Linked DNA regions of Homo sapiens: regions 2 and 3 are each linked to region 1. The links come from fine-mapping of genetic effects on gene expression. A gene starts in region 1. Each other region holds a variant in brackets. All regions are shown on one strand. Distances are from middle to middle.

Region 1 (5,000 bases):
GACCCTGCCTCCAAACGCTCTGAGATTGTTGGAGACCAGGTCATCCCCTAAGGGAGCCGGGGGTTTGCAAGGTGATCATTTGTTGGAGTCAAGTTCCTTTGGCTCCTCTTTCTCCAAGAGGAAGAAGTACCTGTTTCCTTAATCTCACTCCGGAGAAGTATTTATTTATTTTTTCTCTGGAGTGGGGAGCAGAAACGGAAGACTTCCTGCCAAAGTTAGACACTCCAGGCTGCGGCTGGGGAGGGAGCCATGCCTTGAACTTCTAGGCTTTTGCCACCTCTCCTGTGCCACCTAGGGTGGAGAGGGGCTGTGGGACTCAGGAGGACCGCGGCTTTTAAGAGTTCCAGACTAAGCTAAGCATGGTGGCTCCGATTCCGGCTTTCCTGGACCCCAGGGAGATCCAATCTCCCACTCCCACCCCGGCATTCGCACGCTGGCTTTCCGGGGCGCTTTAGCCTCTCTCCTTAGAGGGTGTGACTCAGGGCCCCAAAGCGAGGTAGAGAAGTGAGAGATCAAGAGATCGGTTCAGTCCGGGGGGATCCCTCCCCCACCCCTCCCAACAACACACACCTTCGCCAAGATGTTCAACGAGAGTTGAGGACTTATCCCATCCTCTGGTTAAAGGTTTGGCTCCCTACTGCCTCCCTGAGCAGGGCCCCCCGCCTGGAGAGCCCAATACCCAAGATTCCAGAGTTAGAGATGGAATATGACCCAACAGGGAAAGTGAAGCTCAGGGAACGGCGGCCCTGGTCCAAAGTCTGGCGTACAAGAAGGGCGCGCACCTCTGCAGGATCCCGGGCGCGCGGAGTCGGCCAAGGGTGGCCGGGGGAGTGTGTCTGCTCCGCGCTCCCAGTCTGCGCTCCGGCTTCTCTGCAGAAGCTGCCGCCAGGCTTTCCTGCCACCCGCCCACGGCCCCGGAGCTCTGGGCACAGCAAGCCAAGCTCCGGGTTCCCGGCTCCTGGTTCCCGCGCAGAGTCGTTGCGGGGATGCTGGAAACGAGGTGTTTCCCGGCCCTACATTTTGCATATTCCATCCCCCCATCCTCCCAGACTTGCTGTGTGACCTTGAGCAAGTAGCTGACAGTCTCGGAGCCTCGATTCTCAGCCCGACCTTAGGGGTTACAGAGGAGACTTTGGTCACCTACCGCTGTTCCCCGGGCTCCCGCGCGCGCTGCTGGTGGCCTCTCCCTCCCGCCAGCTCTGGGGCCGCGGCAAGTCTGTGGCAGCTCGTCCGCTGGTCATCCTACCTCCCCGCCTCCCCGCAGTTCTTTTTCCCTTTCACTTTCTTTCTGCAGCGCTGAGCTCGGGCCAGGCTGTGGAGCAACCAAGCACCTACTGTGGCCACCACGTGCTTTATCAGAAGTGGCATCCCAACTGCCTGGGGCATCCAAGAGGTCCCTGCCTCCAGTCGGTTCCTCACAGTGGCCAGCCCCACTTCGGGGAGAGTCCCAGGCCCCGGGCCAGGAGCCAGGAGCTAGGGAGCCACTTGGGCAAGTGATCTGCAAGTCCTGAGTTGCAGGGAGCTTGTCCCCACCCCTGGGTGGGTCTCTGTTTCTCTCCAACTCAGTCCAACCGTGAAAGTGGCAAACCACCTCCGAGGGCACATGGCCCCTGAGATGAGCTAACTGAGCTATTCACTCCTCTGATGCTGGCCCTAGGGAGGAAGAGAAAATCCCTCAGGTACCTTCCATGGATGGAAAACCTGTGTTACCATGACCACACCCCCAGCCGTGGCAAGAGCCCTGCCGGTCCTTTTCAGAGGTCTTGGATTCCTGCTGGGTCCTCCAAGGCATGAGACTTTGAGGTGGTCACTTTCCCTTTTCAGGCCTGAATTTCCTCATCTGGAATTGAGGGAGGGGGCAAGGTTACCTCTGACTTCTCCCCCTCCAACACTTTCCCGTAGCAACTTAAGGCTGCACCCAACCACACCGGCAGACCTGTCATCAGTCTCTGGGTTCAAAGCAAACCATACATTTCAGGGGAGTCTGAGAAAAGGGATACCACCCCTTTAACCATCCAACAACAGCAATGCCAATAAAATTGAGCTCCTATGAGCTCAATTCCAGTTCCTATAAAATATTGGACACTGTGCTAGGTCCCTCATCATTACCCTTTCATACAGGCTTTCCCACAGGTCCATTGTACACTCCAGGAAAATTGACTCGAGAATGTAAACGACTTCTTCAGGGGCACACCCTTCCCAGCCAACGGTGTAGCTGCCATGCTGCCTTCAGAGCCGGTGCCAGGTGTCTGCACTGTGCTCTTCCCACCATCTGTTCCCCCGTCCCCTGACCCTTTTTAAACAACACCATTAGGAAACTGGGGGGAGGGCAGCATCCGCCAGCTCTCCCCAGCTGCTGAGGGCTCAACAGCTACACCTCAAGGCTGACTCCAATTTTGGTTTCCCTGCTTCTCTGGGTATGGAGTGGAGTCTGGCAGAGGTCCCGTCCTGCAGAGGCACCCCTCAGTATTTACCCAAAGGGAGGCGAGAAGACCTTGCTGTGGGCCGAGCCAGGCCAGCATGCTGAGAGTTAGTGACACACTGCCCGAAAGTCTGACTTCTAGAACCTTTCGGTGCTGATACATGGTTCATACTCCAGACACCTGGCTGACCTGAAGTCTCCCTCCGGTGGAAGGAAATAGACAACTCTTTCACATCTTCCAATGGCCTGCCCCAGCAGGACACAGACTCCTGTTCCCATCCTCACCCCCATCCCCAATTCAGAATGGTTTCTCTGTTTATCTGGAATGGCAGGACCAGCTGAGACTGCACGCTAAATTAAGATGCTTTCCCGGCCTTTTTACCTTGGGGCTCTGACAGGTAGGACCCAGCAGGGCGTGGAGCCAGGCAACGCATTGTGTAGGAATCCCAGCCAGGCAGCAGCTCCCGGAGTCTGGCAGCCCCTCCTCGTGCCCTCAGCTTCCCCAAGGATGCCTTCGGATGCCCAGCTCAGAAGCACACAGCCTCATCACTAGCCTCATCACTAACCAGTCACCAGTTGGGAGCCCGCCAAGCTAAGCCAACATGCAAAGAAACAAGTGAGGGATCATCAAAAAAACTCTCCCTGCAAGGTGGCCCCAAGCGGTCAGATTTCTGTTTCTGAACACCCTCTAATTTTACCACACTCCCTTAAGCCCTCCCCACACCTCTGAAATTAATTTCACTTCCTTACTGTGGACTGAATTTGGTGAAGACAGAAAGTTGCACAGAAAGTCTGTTGGGGGAACCTTCAACAGTCTGACGTTCAGAAATGATGATCACAATGGAACCGCACTGGTGCCAGCTGCCAATATCTGCCACCTTCTGCAGGATGGGGCCAGTATCATAGCCCTCCGCCCAGATGCCTCAAGACAAGCTGAGAGCCTCTGCTGGGGACTTCTTAGATGCTGCTCTCCTCTACCATGCCTACTCCCACACCAAATTGCCCTGAATTTCTCTGGAGATCATAAGTGGCCCACCTGTCATTTTCATCCCAAGACATTGGACTAAAACATAAATTATACCAAAAGAGTGTTAACCCAAATATGGTACCCTTGTAGTCAGATGGTTTGGGGTGACCCGCCAAAGTGATGCTAAATAATACTGACTCCCATAGGGAGAAAGTTAGTGTCTTTTCCAGTCTCTGCCCATCCTCCTGGTGGTATCAAGGAGGAAGTCTCAGCTTGGTGTGAACATGTCTTTAACACCTCTTCTAATATATGATCACTCTGTTTTATAGAAAGCAGCTCTCTAGCCTCAGAGCCTTCTACAGTCAACAGTATCTTGCTATAATCTAACATCACTCTGCTTTCTTGTTAAATGGTTACCTCCTGTTTTTGCCATTTTTTCCCTTTATAATGGGACGTAAAGTTTTATTTGAATATAAAGTAGATGGCTGGGCCAGGTGGCTTGTGCCTGTAATTCCAACATTTTGGGAGGCCGAAGCAGGAGGATTGCTTGAAGCCGGGAGTTGGAGGCTAGCCTGGGCAACATAGTGACACCCTATGTCTACAAATTGTTGGGGTTTTTTTTGTTTGTTTTTGTTTTTTTTTAGACGGAGTTTCACTCTTATTGCCAGGCTAGAGTGCAATGGCATGATCTTGGCTCGCTGCAACCTCCGCCTCCCGGGTTCTGGGTTCAACTGATTCTCCTGCCTCAGCCTCCCGAGCAGCTGGGATTACAGGCACCTGCCACTATGTCCAGCTAATTTTTCTTTTCTTTTCTTTTTTTCTTTTTTTGAGACGGAGTCGCGCTCTTTCGCCCAGGCTGGACTGCAGTGGCGCTATCTTGGCTCACTGCAAGCTCCGCCTCCTGGGTTCACGCCATTCTCCTACATCCAGCTAATTTTTCTACAAATGATTTTTTAAAAATTAGCCATGTATGATGGTGCACAACTATAGTCCCAGCTACTCTGGAGGCTGAAGTGGGAGGATCGAGTGTGCCCAGGAGTTGGAGGCTGCAGTGAGCTATGATCATGAAATACACTCCAGCCTGGGCAACAGAGTGAGATCCTGCCTCTCCTAAAGAAAAAGAAAAGAAAGATAAGTAAAAAAGGTGAGTGGTTAAAAAAAACCCTGTCATAAATAATAGTAAAGTGTTATGTGGAAAACACAAAAATGATGAAGGTGGTACTGAAATGAAGGTTTGGAAACATGACTTGTGTGCCTCATGCATTTTTGCTGAAAGAGCACTGGACGGGGAACTTAGTAGCAGGTGTGTGACCTTGGCCTCTTTACTTCCTCTCTGTGGTCCTCAGTTTCCCCATGTGTGAAATGAGGATGATGCCCTTCTTTGTAAGGTGATTACTTTGAAGCCTTCACTGTTTTCAGAAGTCCCCGGGTGAGGAGTGGGGTAGAAATTGACAAATAAGAAATGCTGAGTCAATTTGAAACAGCCTTGCTTAGTGGGGCTAACAAACGGATATGGTGAATGTCAGAAATTCTAAGAATGACCAGGCACAGTGGCTCATGCCTGTAATCCTAGTCCTTTGGGAGGCTGAGGTGGGCAGATCATTTGAGGTC
Region 2 (5,000 bases), 36 kb before region 1:
TTAGCTTCTTAGGAACTAAGCCCCTGAGGCTTGGCAACTTCCTTAACCTCCACTGTAAAGTAGGACTATGCTCCCCAATCCCTCCCCAGCTGAATTGCTGAGAGCAGCAAATGAGGTTGTGAGGAAAGGAGTTTCAAAGGTCACGAAAGGATCTACAACTTTTTTTGTCACTGGGGATTCCCATCTGATGTGGCGTCATCTCATCACTCATGTGCCAGCCACATTGAGGATGCAGTAGGCGGAAGAGAGAAAAAAAGGGACAAAGTGAGGGCTTTTCTTTCTGCAGGTGCCTTGGGGGCAGGATTTGGGGTTGTCAAAACCCAGAGGTTGCTGGGCACTGTAGCATGCACCTGTGGTCCCAGCTACTCAGGAGGCTGAGGCAGGAGGACTACTTGAGGCCAGGAATTCGAGGCTGCAGTGAGCTATGATCACAGCACTGCACCCAGATGTTGAGAGGAAGGGGTCCCAGAGTCTATACTCACTCCAGATGCTGCAGGGAGGAAAAGGCCGTGAGGATCCGCACCAGTTTGGGGAAAGCCTGGGGGCCTGAGACAGGGCCCAGCCTAGGAGGCAAAGAGCAAGGGTAAGACCTCCAGTCACAGTCACAGCCCCTCATTCAGCCCCAGGGTGGGGCAGAGACAAGGCACAGAAGTCAGGTCCTGTCTGAGGCCCCTCCTCTTCCCTTCCACCCCAGCCTCTTAGGTCCCTGCAACCCTTCCACGTAGGACCCCAATCTTTTCTGCTTGGGGTAGATTTCATAGCCCCCCATAAGAGGCCAGTTGAGGCTGGGAACAGTGGCTCATGTCTGTAATTCCAGCATTTTGGGAGGCCAAGGTAAGAGGACTGCTTGAGCCCAGGAGTTCAAGACCAGCTTGGGCAACATAGTGAGACTCAGTCTCTACAAAAAACACAATAATTAGCCAAGTGTGGTGGTGTGTCCTGTGGTCTCAGCTTCTTAGGAGGCTGAGGTGGAAGCATCGCTTGAGCCCAGGAGGTGGAGGATGCAGTGAGCCATGATCACACCACTGCACTCCAGCCTGGGTAAGAGCGAGACCCTGTCTCAAAAAAGAAAAAAAACAAAAAAAGAAAAGAAAAAGAGGTAAGTTGGGCTCCCATCTTGGGGCTCCCCAGCTTTTGTCTCTAAGTAGGGAGCCAGTTCTTACTCTTCCCAACATCCACAGATACCCTTCTCCCGCCGCAGCCTGGGGAAGGGGTCCTGAAATGCCAGCTGACGACCACTGCCAGTGGTAAACCAGGTGGTTGACTAATATGCCTTTGCATTTTAATAACAAAAGGAACCATTTGTTGAGCATTTATTATAAGCCAGGGGCATGCTAGGCCCTTCCCTCGGCCTAGATCTCATTTACTCCTCAAGACTCTGAGCTATGGGCTCTTATCTCCATTTTACATATAGGGAAACTGAGGCACTAGGCGATCAAATAGCTCACACAGGGTCACACAGCCTGGATCAACATTTAGAGCAGACTTCAAGGGGATGAGAAAAATAAGGACAACGAAGGGCCGTTTAGTTTAAAAATATGGTTAAATGCATTCCATATAAAGAGCTGTCTTTTATTCTGCAATTATGTCCTTTGAACTTTTTCAATATTAGAATGATCATTCTTTGGTAAAATTATGGTGCCAGCAGTGGGTATTTTGTTGTTATTTGTTTGTTTGAATGAGCATCCTTGATAAACATTAAAAAACAGTAACCGCGCACGGTCACTCGAATTCATTCCGAAATGTTCTCGGCCTCTGAAATCCTGAAGTCTGAGAACACTGGCCTCAGCAAAAGGCCACAGGATCAGAGTTTGACTCCAGGATCTGGCATTTGGCTCCCTGCTAAAGGCCTTGGCAAATCCCTTCACCCTTAAGTCTTGATCTCCTCAAATATTTCACCCCAATCTTATGGGGGTTCTTGGATTAAGGCATTCGTTGTTAAATATTGACCGCTTGCCTACTATGTGCCAGGCCCAGGGAGGAAAGTTGTGGGCCAAACAGACGAAAATCCCTGCCTTCTGGGTGCTGACATTCCAGGGGGGAAGATAGACAGATAATCAAAGAAATCGGAAAGCAAGCTGATGTCTGAGACAATGAATCATATGGAAATATACAGTGGTGAGGGGGATGGAGTTTTTTTTTTAACCATGAGGGGAATGGAGTTCTATTTATTTATTTATTTATTTATTTTTGAGATGGGGTCTCACTCTGTCATCCAAGCTGGACTGCAGTGGCGTGATCTCAGCTCACCGCAACCTCCGCCTCCCGGTTTCAAATGATTCTCCTGCCTCAGCCTCCCAAGTAGCTGTGACTACAGGCACCTGCCACCATGCCCAGCTAATTTGTTTTGTATATTTAGTAGAGATGGGGTTTCACTATGTTGGCCAGGCTGGTCTCAAACTCCTGGCCTTGTGATCCACCTGCCTCGGCCTCCCAAAGTGCTGGGATTACAGGCATAAGCCACTGCGCCTGGCCAGAGTTTTATTTTTAACTGTGAGGGTCAGAAAAGACCTCACTGAGGCCGGGTGTGGTGGCTCACGCCTGTAATCCCAGCACTTTGGGAGGCCGAGGTGGGGGGATCACGAGGTCAGAAGATTGAGACCATCCTGGCTAACACGGTGAAACCC[C/T]GTCTCTACTAAAAATACAAAAAATTAGCCAGATGTGGTGACATGTGCCTGTAGTCCCAGCTACTCGGGAGGCTGAGGCAAGAGAATCACTTGGACTTGGGAGGAGGAGGTTGCAGTGAGTCGAGATTGTGCCACTGCACTCCAGCCTGGGTGACAGAGCGAGACTCCACCTCAAAAAAAGAAAAAGAAAAAAGGAAAAAGAAAGAAAGAAAGGGAAAGAAAGAAAGAAAGGAGGGAAAGAAAGAAAGAAAGAAACAGGGAAAGAAAGAAAAGAAAAGGCCTCACTGAGTAAAGACCAGAGGAGGTGAAGGCATGAGCCATGCAGATATCTGGGGAGAAGTATTCCAGGCAGAGGGCACAGCCGGTGCAAAGGCCTGGAGGCAGAAGCATGCCTAGGAGGTTGAAAGCCAGCAAGGAGGCCCTGTGGCTGGAATGGAGAGAGCACCCAGCGAGTGTAGGAGATAAGGGTGAACAGGTGAGTGGGGACTGAACTGGGGAAGGACTCTGTGTACAAACGAAGTCCCTGTAGGGTTGTGAGTGGCTAAGAACCCTGATTTGACAGACAGATGAGGTCTACAGGGTGCCTGGGCACAGTAGAAGCCTGAGAAAATGCCAGAAATAGTCTTTTCCTTCCTTCCTTCCTTCCTCAGAACCTCCTCGGGGGCTTCCGGTCTCCAGGTGGCTGATCACCCGGCTCTAGGCTGTTCCACCCCATGGCCGCTGTTCCCCAGAGCGCAGTTCCGATCTTGAACTAGGGGCTTTTTCAGCTGAAAATAATTTAAGGCCAGAAAGGGCCCTCAGTTATTGTTTTCAGACATTTCCCCTTTTCAGCATCATTTTTACCTCTGGACAAATTTAGCACCTTGTCTCTGTTCAAAACAAGAGACACTGGCTTTTTTCTGGGGCACAGGGGAGCAGTGATCAGGGAGAGCTGATAGCTTGTGGGTGACCAGCTGGGGGACCACGGGCAAGTCACTTAACCTCACCAGGCCTCCGTCTCCTCATCTGTAAAATGGGGAAGATGATGACTGTCTGTCTTCCACAGTAGCTCTTGAGATTAATGAGATTATATATAAAATGCACTGAATTATAAGCTGGGCATGGTGGCTTACACCTGTAATCCCAGCACTTTGGGAGGCTGAGGTGGGAGGAACATCTGAGGCCAGGAGTTCAAGACCAGCCTGGCCAACATGGTTAAAGCCCGTCTCTACTAAAAATACAAAAATTAGCCAGGTGTAGTGGTGTACACCTGTAATCCCAGCTACTCGGGAGGCTGAGGCAGGAAAATTGCTTGAACCGAGAGGTGGAGATTGCAGTGAGCCAAGATCATACCACTGCATTCTAGCCTGGGTGACAGAGCAAGACCCCATCTCCAAAAAAAAACAGCACCGAATATACCACAGGCATAACAACTCCTTCCTAATCATTAGATGATCTAGACCCCTACCAAGGAACAAACATTCATTTAGCTTTTTCTGTGGAAGGAGCTTAGGGCCAGGCTGACCTGACCTTTATGACTTTGGATAAACAATTTAAAGTCTCTTGTTCTCAGCATTGCCATTTGTACAATGGGGAGATGATGACAATGCCTGTAGAGGAGGGTGGCCTGAGATAATTGAGATGGAAGGTGAGCTGCAAATTTAAAAGCCTGTTCTGGCCAGGTGCGGGAGCTCGCACCTGTAATCCTAGCACTTTGGGAGGCTGAGGTGGGAGGATTGCTTGAGCCCAGGAGCTCGAGACCAGACTGGGCAACATGGTGAAATCCTGTCTCTACAAAAAATACAAAAATTAGTCAGGTGGGGCATGCCTGTAGTCCCAGCTACTAGGGAGGCTGAGGTGGGAGGATCACTTGAGCCTAGGGAGGTTGAGGCTGTGGTGAGCTGTGATTGTGCCACTGAACTCCAGCCTGAGGGACAGAGTAAGACTCTGCCTCAAGAAAGAAAAGAAAAGGAAAGAAAAGGAAAGGAAAAAGAAGGAAGGAAGAGAAGGAAGGGAGGGAAGGAAAGAGAAAGAAAGAGAATGGAAAGAAAGAAAGAGAAAGGAGAGAAAGGAAAGAAAGAAAAGAAGGAAAGAAAGAAAGAAAGAGAGAGATAGGGAGGGAGGAAGGAAGGGAGAGAGAGAGAGAAAGAAAGAAAGAAACAGAGAGAAAGAAAAAGAAGAAAAGGGGGAAGAAGGGAGGGAGGGAAGGAAGGAAGGAGGGAGGGAGGGAAGGAAAGAAAAGGAAGGGAAAGGAAAGAAAGAGGAAAGAAAGAGAGAAAGAAAGAAAGAAGAAAGAAAGAAAAAGAAAGAGAGAAGAAAGGAAAGAAAGAAAGAAAAGCTATATTCTGACAGATCTAAATATAATAATTATTGTGCTTTCTTGGGGCCCATGTA
Region 3 (10,367 bases), 53 kb before region 1:
AAAAAATGTCTGTCACTAAAGAGAAAATCATCATCGCTTGGCATGGATAAAAACACTAACTGCCAAAGTCATTAACTTTTGGCCAAATACCAAAGCCAGCTAAAGTCACAGGGCCTTGGCCTGTATTCTTTGTTAAAAAGAGATTAACAACTGTCGGGTGATAAACATAAGATATACCAGCACCAAACTGAACTTTCTCCTCTAAATAATCATAAGGATTGACCAAAAACTGAAAAGCAAATTGCTTGCTCACTATATGTGATTCCTTGTTACTTAGGGTCACCTCCGTATACCCTCTAAAATTGTTACTTACATGCTTTGCAGTTGGACATATTTTGGTTTAAATCCCAGCTCCACCAACACCTCAGACTTCATCTCCTAAGCCTCGGTTTCCTTCTCTGTAAAACAGGGATAATAGTAGCACCTGCCTAAGGGCTTGTGCAAATTAGATTGGGATAGTGAATGATGTATAGTTGGTGCTTGCTTAATGAATGACGTGGTCAGTGTCAATGGCGTGTCAGACCCTGAAGGGGCTCTAGCCCAGGAAGCCTTCCCCCTTTCCTTGGGTGCCCTTCCTCCTGAGGACTGGTTACCAAGGAGGGTGTGTCTGTGTGGGCAGCCTTTGAAGTAGCCCAAGGGCGGTGATAATTGGTACCCAGCGAGTCCCCAGATGGTGCTGGTGCCCTCACAGCTGCCATCCCAGGCCCCAAGCTTGGAGTGGCGGGGAACTCCCTCAAGGGTAAGGCTTCATTTCTGGGAGTCCCTCCTGGCAAGGGGCTTGGCTGGGTGGTTAAAAATAACTGCCTCTCCCACATCTCCATCACCTGCCCCAAGCATCACCCTGTGAAGCCGCCAAGGAGGGTTCCATTAGACCAGGGAGGAAACTGAGGCTTGCAGAAGTTCGATGACTCATCTCAGATACCCATCTATGAGGTGGCAGCATTGGGCTCCTGGCCACGCTGTCCTGATGTTTCCCCCAGTGAGGTGGTCTGCTGGAGGCGTCCCAGGGCGGTAGTGAATACGCAGCAGCGGATCAGATCAGCTCTCAGGGCCCCGACACCCCCTGAGCACCTACTGCTTTGCCCTTTTAACTGGCACAAGGCTCAGTTATACAGGCCAAGGGTATCAAGCTAGACTTCCTGGTTCCATTTTCATTGTATTTTTAGCATTGCCTTCTGTGTATGACAAATTCTACTGCTTTGGGTGTTATATGGTGACATAAATGATCTTATTAAAAAATTGGAGTTTAAAAAGTACATTGGTTTAAAATACTAAGTAAATAATAGTCCAGGTGGTTCTTGGATGTGGCAGGACCTGGAGGGAGGCACTGGGCAAGTGCTGCCCTTCCAGAGGGCTCAGGGAGTCTTGGGCGTGACCAGCTGGAGGCACGTGGTAGACCAGGCATCTTCACAAAGCCCGCTGCTGATCAGCTTTGGCAGCCAACGTGCAAATCCGAAGCCAGGTTTGAGAAAGTGGTCATCATTTCTCTGTGACGTTGGCTTTCCTCAGGGACATGGACCTGTGCAGAGACAGGCAGCTTCTCCTTTGCCGTCTGTCTCCTTCCGGCCACCAGGAGACAGCCAGACCCCAGCCATGCCTTCATTCTGAGATAAGGTAGAGACCCTCCTGCCACATAGCCTGTCACCAGCGTGGAGGATCAGAATGGCTGCGTGAGTAGGGGAGGGTGACGTCTGTCTTTAGCCACTTTAATTGATTTTTTGGTACATGGAGAAAGGAATGAGCAATGGGTTTCTAGAAGGCAAGGTCTTTGAAGGAGGAAAAGTGCTGCTGCTTTCAGAAGGCCCCTAGCCTTGAGAAGGTTCCCTGCCGGTATTGGTTTCTACCTGGGAACAGGTGGGGCTAAGGAGGGAAGGAACCACCCTGTACTGATGTCTCGTGTGTGCTGGGTATTGTCAGGCACTCCATGGACACAAACAGCCCAATGTGGTGGGCACTGTCCCCTTTTCCAGATGAGGAAACTGGCCCAGAGAGGGTGGGTGACTTGTCTGAGGTCACACAGCCAGGAAGGGGCAGAACCACAATCAGCACAGACAGGCTAAATGCAGATCTCACAGCATTTGCCCTGAGGAGCAGGACAGCGGGCAGCTGAACTCTAGGAAAGAATTCCCTTCTACCACTTTCAGAGCCTCACCCACCAGTGCGCGTAAAACGCCAGGGCCATCTTCTTACTTAAGCCACATCCTGAACCAGGCAGCTTCTCTGCAGAGTTACTGAGCTAAGACATTGCTTCACGAAGGGGATCTAGCACCCAACTGTCATTCTGACTACAGAAACCAGCCAGCCAGCCACGTCCTCTGTCCAGCTCTGGGGAATGGCTGGAATGAAAGGTTACAGTTTCAGAAAGGGGGAAAAAAATCTAGTGGCTGATAACTTGTCTGCTGTGCTCTGATGATGTCAGAAGGTTGGAGAACCTGCTGCCCTGGGTTCTATAAGCTCCAGCTCTGGGGTGCTTTTCAGCCTGGGGCTCTTGATGCCTTAGAAGAAACTTGTTCAATCCGTGGTGCGGCCTGTAGGCTGCATACAGCTCAGGACGGCTTTGACTGTGGCCCAACACAGATTCATAAACTTTCTTAAAACGTTATGAGATTTTAGCCTGGCCAACATGGTGAAACCCCATCTCTACTAAAAAATACATCAATTAGCCAGGCATGGTGACATGCGCCTGTAGTCCCAGCTACTCAGGAGGCTGAGGCATGAGAATTGCTTGAACCTGGAACTGCAGTGAGCCAAGATCATGCCACTGCCCTCCAGCCTGGGTGACAAAGCAAGACCCTGTCTCAAAAAAAAAAAAAAAAAAAGAATTTTTTTTTTGGTTTGTGTTTTTTTGTGTGTGTGTGTGTGATTTTGTTTTATTTTTTAGCTCATGAGCTATCATTAGTATATTTTATATGTGGCCCCAGACAGTTCTTCCACTGTGGCCCAGGGAAGCCAAAAGATTGGATACCCCCATCTCAGAGAAAAGGGACGAACCTGCAGTGCCGAGTGGTTTCGGCTTTGGGGTCAGGCCACGGGGGTTCAAATCCTGGCTCTGCCATTTATGAGCTGTGTGGCCTTGCACGGCTTGCTTAACCTCTCTGAGCTCCATGTGAAATGCAGGGATGATGGTCCTACTTGGCCCTACCTCCTAGAGTTGTTTTTGAGGGATAAGTGAGTTAAGACATGAGTTCGAGTAGTACAAGGTGAACACAAAGTAAATGCTTCATAACACAAGTGTTGTCACGATTTTCATTTAGCGTTTGCCAAGGCTGCCATTGCAAGACACAGGAGCGAAGGGGTTGATCTCTAATAGCCAAAGTGTGTGACAAATGAGAATTGAACTGTGTCCCAGAACATCCTCCCGCCCTACACATAGAAACCTGGGGTCACCTCCCTGTCCTCGACTCACTGTGTGACTTCAGGCAGAGGTCACCACCCTCTCTGGGCCCTTTCATTCTCTGCTATGGACTGAGTGGGACCAGCTTGGATCAAAATCCTCAAACCTCATACAACACTGTCAGCAGCTTTTCCTGTATCTGCCTGTTACCTGAACTATTAACAGTTTTCTTTAAATTGGCTCCTTTTAAAGTAAAATGTTTTGAAAAGAGAAACTTTTGTGTTTTTTTGAGACAGAGTCTCACTCTGTCACCTAGGCTATAGTGCAGTGGCGTGATCTCGGCTCACTGCAACCTCTGCCTCCCTAGCTCAAGCGATTCTTCTGCCTCAGCCTCCCGAGTAGCTGGGACCTCAGGCACCTGCCACCATGCCCAGCGAATTTTGTATTTTTGTTTGTTTGTTTTTAGTAGAGACGCGGTTTCGCCATGTTGGCCAGGCTAGTCTTGACCTCATTTCGCCATGTTGGCCAGGCTGGTCTCAAACTCCTGATCTCAACTGATCCACCCACCTTAGCCTCCCAAAGTGTTGGGATTACAGGTGTGAGCGACTTGGAAAAGAAAAACTATATTACTACCAGAAATGGAAACTTGGCATCACTTGCTATAAATAGAAGGTAACCCTACAGATAAACACAATGAAAACCGGAGTGTTAGTAAATTCCACGTGTAGCCCATTCAGACTGGAGATCTGCACACAAGAGGGCAGCTACAGCCAGACTAGCGCCTGGCTGGGACTGTCGGGGATGCGGTTTGTGGTCACAGGACTGGGAGAGGAGTGAGGTCCTCACCGAGTGATTCCATCTTCTCTTTTTTTTGAGACAGGGTCTCTGTCACCCAGGCTGGGTGCAGGGGCACAGTCATAGTTCACTGCAGCCTTGAACTGCTGGGCTCACGCAATCCTCCTGCCTCAGCCTTCCAAGTAGCTGAGACTACACTATGCCTGGCTAATTTTTAAATTTTTTATAGAGACAGTCTCACTGTGTTGCCCAGGCTGGTCTCAAACTCCTGGCCTCAAGTGATCCTCCCACCCCAGCCTCCCAAAGTGCTGGGATTACAAGCATGAACCACTCTATCCAGCTGATTCCATGTTCTCTAACACCCTATCCACACAAATCTGAGATGGGCTCAAGGATGACCACAGGCCTTGGAGATCTCTGCAGTGAGCATCTGTGCGGCTGAATCTGAGTAAAGGATTCTGCTTCAGGCTGCTGGCCAGCAGGTGTCTCAGGAGCAGGCTGGTGGAGGGCAGCTATGGAGAGACATTAGCTCTGCCTGCACTTACAGCCTGAGGACCAAGCAGGCTCTGGAGGCAGAGAAAGGCCTCAGCAAAGAAGGGCAGGTCGACCTGCAAGGAAGAGTGAGTGGAGGGAATGGGGCGGGGCACCCACAGCCTCTGCTAAGGTCTCATGGCACTTAGCAGGGTCCTCAGCGTCTGCTAAGAGCTCAGGAAATGGTACCTGCTCTCATTCAGACCGTTTCCATCGTTATTACCAAGCCAGTGCCAGCTTTGCCTCTCATAGCTGTGCATCTTTAGGCAGGTTACTTGGCTTCTCTGAACCTCAATTTCTTATCCTATTAAATGATAAGAACCTCAGTTTCTTATCCTATACGATGCATGGGTCTCAATGGAAACAGTTCCGCCCCCTTAGGTCGACCTTGGAAATAGGGTAGGAGGGCATTTTTAGTTGTTCCAGTGGCCAGGGGTGCTACTGGCATTTAGTGGCCTGGAGCCAGAGATGCTGCTAAATGCTCAGTGCCCAGAACAGCCACCCCACCTCCAAGAATTGTCCTACCCCAAATGTCAATAGCACCCTGTCAAACAACAATACATGTCACATGTTTAACATACAAGTTCTGCGAGATGTTCAGTGAAGTTTGCGGAAAGGATAGTGAGCTGGGAGATGAGGCTTGGAATCAGAGCAGGGCTTGAGGGGGCTGCAGAGGGGTTGGGCATGGGAACACGAGGTGCTACAGAGACACTGGCACCCGGCTAGGCACACAGAGAAGGCAGTGGGAAACGGGGACGTGCCAGGGGGCCAGGCCATGGAGATGATGCTGCATCCTGGGAGAAAGAGCCAAGTGGGGCTGCTGAGTAACTTGGCTGTGGCTATTGCCTTCCTGTAGGTTGCAAAGCATTTTTCCGGGCAAGGTGGAAGGTGTTGCCAAGCCCTGCCCACTACCCAGCGCTGGCTCAGCTGGCCCAGAGCTGCAAGTCAGCCCTCAGACCCTGGGTGACTCCTGAGCAGGCTGCACCAGCATCCCCCTCCTCCCTCCCAATAAACAGGACAGTCCTTCCTCTCCCGTGTGACATTGCACTGGTTCTCCAGCCCAGGGTCTCTGAGAAATTAGGCAAATTCATTAAAAAGAGTTTTATATTTGCAGAAAGACATTTTCAGCCTGAGTCTGGGGCTCCCAGTGGTTCCCTAAATTTGAGGGATGGAGGAAGACTTCCCTGCCCCACCCCAAGCCTCCCGAGCCTGGTGGATTGGTCCCTGTCCCCAGCCAACCTGGTGGCAGGGTGGGGCTTCCGTGCTAATAACCCCCCTTTTTCCTTCTTGTTAGACCTGCTCCCCTCAAAAGCTTCGTGCCAACAGAGAGGTTCCTGTTTGAACCCAGGAGAGTGGAAGAGAGATTGGGACTGAGTGCTGAGGTTGGGAAGGCACCTGCTCCCACAGAAGGGGGAACGCAAGAGGCATCCCAAGACCTCATCTGCCTGCAGTGTCAAATCGATGGCCTGGCCTTGGCTTCTGATTATTTGCAGCTGCGATGGATGTTTACAGGAACCCAGCCAGAGTTTGCCTCCCTGCACTTCATCCCGGAGCGCACCTGCTTCCCCCACTTCACCTTCGGAGAGGACACTTCAAACTGCGGACACACGCAAAAGCGACTCCCAGCTCCGTTTGATGTGAGTTGAGCCTTCAGGCCAGCTGGGTTTAGCCCGAGGCTGGTCTTAGATGCAGCGACTGTTTCAGGGGTGACTCAGAAGAAAAAGAAGCTGAGGAAGCTGTTGGGGGGCTGAGGGTGGGATTCTCGCTCCTTCATTTCAGGTTACTCGTTCTTCAGCAAGTTGGCAAAACAGACATCATGCTGGTGAGTGCCACGTTACTCCCCTGGCTGGAAATGCTTTTCTGAAAGTATGAGTGTTGTGCCTACTTAATTCTGATAAACCTGTCTAAGCAATACTTAGGAGGCTTACTTCTTTGGATTAAAAAAAAATGTATGCAACTCCAACCCCTGGGGCCCTGCCTTTTTTTTTAACTTTGAGATTCGGGAAAGGAGTTCTAGGCAGAACCTTGTGGCTGACAAACAGCAGAAGATCCAGTGGGGTTGAGAGAGTCTGCCCCAGTCGGGCTGGCGTGAAAGTCCCAGGCTGGCCCCCTGCCCCACTCCACAAGCCAGGGACAGCATTTGGGGTGTGGTGGGAAAAGCCTGAAGGCCAAGCTGGAAACCAGGCCTGAATCCCATAGAAGTGGGGGTGGGTATCCCCTGTGTCAGGCACATGGTAGACCTTCATTAAAGATAGGGGGGAAGGGCTTGGCATGGTGGCTCATGCCTGTAATCCCAGCACTTTGGAAGGCCGAGGCGGGCAGATCACTTGAGGTTAGGAGTTCGAGACCAGCCTGGCCACCACGGTGAAACCCCATCTCTACTAAAAATACAAAAAAATTAGCCAGGCATAGTGGCGCACACTTATAGTCCCAGCTACTCGGGAGGCTGAGGCAGGAGAATTGCTTGAAACCAGGGAGGCAGAGGTTGCAGTGAGTTGAGATCATGCCACTGCATTCCAGCCTGGGCAACAGAGCAAGAGAGGGATTAAATGAGTGGAATTGGGAGCTTGTAGTTTCACGGAATACAAGCAGTAATTCTCTCCAGTTTGCAGAGCACTTGATTTCAAAGCACCTTCACATACACACCAAGTGAAGCAGGGTTCAAACGATTGACCCCTTTCTACAGGC[G/A]AGGAGACTGAGGTGTGGGAGAGTACAGGCGGCAGAACTCTGGGGGGAGACAGTTGGAGCACCACTTGCCCTCAAGTGATGCTAAAGAAAGAAAAGCTACGAAATCTGAAAAGAAGACATTTGAGAGCCCCAGGGAAAAAGGTGAGCGTCAGGAGGGAGACATTTGTATGCAGAGAGAGGCCTGCGAGGAAGAGTGACCATTTGGAAGGTGCGTGGACTTACAATCCACTGGACATGGAATTGCACTATCATGCCCTGATTCCTCCGAGCAGCGCTTTACCACCTGACAAATGGGGTTCAGGGGCACTTCCGGCACACTGTGCCTGTCCCTGCAGAGAGGTCCTCCAAAGAAGTCAGAAGTCCATTCCTTTATAGGAGTGTGACTATAAGTATCACTTAGATCTGTGACACGGAGACAGTAATTTATCCACATCTTACGATGACTGTGCGTTAACTACGAAAAGATGCCCCTCTGGGTTAAAAGGCTCCACACCAGGACTCCCAGTTTGGCAAGCAGAACCCAGACTGGTTTGCAGCCCCCATGTTCCCCCTTGTCCCAGGTGCCTTTGTGCAGTGTACAGACTGGCCAACCTCACCTGGCAGCCCTGTCCAAAGAGTTTTTTTAATTTGCTAAAATATAAGACTCACCAGGGCAGGAACATCTTATTCATGACTGTGCTGTCAGTATGTATTTGCAGAATGAATGAAACCGTTAGGTGAGGATTATTTGTTCATTTTATGTTATTGAGCACCTATTATACACAGGCGCCTTGCTGGGTACAGAGGGCACAGCAGTGTACAAAGCGAGATGTTTCCCGCCCTCCTGGAGCTCATGTCCTAGGACAAGAGCAGACTGCATAAATAAGTGAAAAAGATAAAACTAGTGATGGGGTTGGAGAATGGGGCAAGTCCCGAAGGATGAGAAATCAGCCATATGGAGAGCTGGGAAGAACATTCCAGCCAGAGGCAAGAATGAAACACAGATATATGTAATAATGACAGCCAACATGTTATTGAGCTCCAATTCTTAACGTATTAGCTCACCACACCTTCACATAATCCTATAAAGAAGGTGCTGTGGTTATGCCCATTTTACAAATGAGGAGACTGAGGCACAGAGAACTAGCTTGCATAAGTAAGTGGTGAGGTGGGCGTTGAGCCCAGGCAATCTCGTTCTAGAGTCTCTGCCACTTGCCCCTAGACTCTTATCCCTCTTGAGTAGGAGTTTAGCACAGTGTCTGGCACACAGTCATCACTTATTGAGCTAATACTTTCTGAGCGCTTTGAATTTCCCTTGCACTGTGATAAGGGCTTTGCATGTATCTGCTCATTAAATAAACAGTAGTGGCCGGGTGCGGTGGCTCACCCCTGTAATCCCAGCACTTTGGGAGGCCAAGGCAGGCAGATTACCAGCCTGGCCAACATGGTGAAACTCCATCTCTACTAAAAATACAAAAATTAGCCAGGCGTGGTGGTGCATGCCTGTAATCCCAGCTACTTGGGAGGCTGAGGTGGGAGAATTGCTTGAACCCAGGAGGCAGAGGTTGCAGTGAGCCGAGATCATGCCACTGCACTCCAGCGTGGGCAATAAGAGTGAAAACTCTGTCTCAAAAAAATTAAATAAAATAATAAACAGTAGCTATCATTAACAAATCGTTAGTGTTAATAACTGCAGGCTCTGACCTCATTTCATCATCACACAGACCAAAAGCAGTGGGTCAGACCAAAAACCTGGCACATGGCACAGTGGATGATCAGAGCACACCTTAGTGCTCACTCCTGTAGGCGCACACACAGGAGGCCCATGGCCTCTGTAGAGTCTGCAAGTGCAGGGATCCCTTGCAGGGTGACACCTGAGCTATTTACAAGCTGAACCTGGATGGCAGCACCTGATACCCTTTGCAGCCAGTTCGAGGCAGGAGGTGCTTGCCTGTCTGCAAAGATCATCAACCACGCAGCCGGGTCTGGATTCCTCAGACCCTCTTGACACCCAGCTCTCACTTGCTGGGGAGAGGAGCAGAGCTTGGGAATCAGACTGATCCTGTGGGCACTGGGGCTGGTGAGCTGGAGCTGAACAGGCAGCTCCCACTGCCACCAGGAGTAAGCTAAGATGTCTTGAATTGGGGCTTCTGAGCAGACTATGCCCGAGTGAAAAGCAACAGTCGTGCCGGCAGCTCGCTGGGTAGAAAGCGGAGCTTCCAAGTCCCTTTCGGACTCCCTGCAGCCAAGGTGGGACTCCGTCTCCGCTAAAAACCAGCTCACTCCCAGGACAGAGCTGTGTGTCAGAGGCAGAGGCAAACATTCCCCTTGGTAAGCTTTTGGTGCTTCAACCTTTCTCATCCCCAAACAATTAATTTTCCACTGAATTTTAGGAAGCCACAAAGAAAAGTCCTCTCAGAAAAGAGGACTTGAGCCAAGGTGGGCTCTGGTGTGTGCACGCGTGTGTGTGTATGTGTGTGTACGTGCACACACGTGCATGTGCACATGTGGTGAAAGGAGGGTGGGTAGGACAGTAGCAATCCTTGTCACACTGGCCAACAGAATATGGCAGAAGTGGGCTGGGTGTGGTGGTTCACACCTGTAATCCCAGCACTTTGGGAGGCTGAGGCAGGAGAATCACTTGAGGCCAGGAGTTCAAGACCTGCCTGGGCAACATAGTGAGACCCTGGCTCTACAAAAATAAAACTAAAGATTAACTGGGCTTGGTGACTCACACCTGTAGTCCCAGCTATTCGGGAGGCTGAGGTGGGAGGATCACTTAGCCCAGGAGGTTGAGGCTGCAGTGAGCCGTGATCATACCACTGCATTCCAGACTGGGCGACAGAGTGAGACCCTGCCTCTTAAAACATATATATGTAGCAGAAGTAATACTGTGTGACTTCTAAGGCTAGGTTATGAAAAGTGGTCTCTCTCTATCCCCTCCTTTCTTTTTGGGACACCCTCCAACCCAGCCACCATACTATGAGGAAGCCCAACTAGCCCACATGGAGGGGTCCTAGCCAACTATTCCGTAGTGGCA

What was found.
Region 2: its variant is fine-mapped to the expression of CIITA in whole blood (TOPMed, PIP above 0.99).
Region 3: its variant is fine-mapped to the expression of CIITA in whole blood (TOPMed, PIP above 0.99).

Annotation. Positions count from the first base shown.
Region 1 is chr16:10,875,187-10,880,186 of GRCh38, reverse strand. It overlaps CIITA (class II major histocompatibility complex transactivator), which reads right to left and starts at 2,985. Exons shown (of 20, transcript NM_000246.4): 1 at 2,805-2,985. The coding sequence starts at 2,856. RefSeq lists enhancers at 362-441, 1,012-1,131, 1,212-1,261, 2,682-2,731, 2,772-2,851 and 2 more.
Region 2 is chr16:10,911,133-10,916,132 of GRCh38, reverse strand. It overlaps CIITA (class II major histocompatibility complex transactivator), which reads right to left. Exons shown (of 20, transcript NM_000246.4): 14 at 483-563. Among named protein-coding and RNA genes, the nearest start is that of DEXI, 29 kb to the left of the region's middle. RefSeq lists an enhancer at 3,676-3,725. The variant C/T (reference allele first, on the strand shown) is at 2,628.
Region 3 is chr16:10,925,147-10,935,513 of GRCh38, reverse strand. CIITA (class II major histocompatibility complex transactivator) reads right to left here. Exons shown (of 20, transcript NM_000246.4): 20 at 1-10,367. It overlaps DEXI (Dexi homolog), which reads left to right. Exons shown (of 2, transcript NM_014015.4): 2 at 5,955-6,623. Among named protein-coding and RNA genes, the nearest start is that of DEXI, 12 kb to the left of the region's middle. RefSeq lists an enhancer at 4,842-4,891. The variant G/A (reference allele first, on the strand shown) is at 7,349.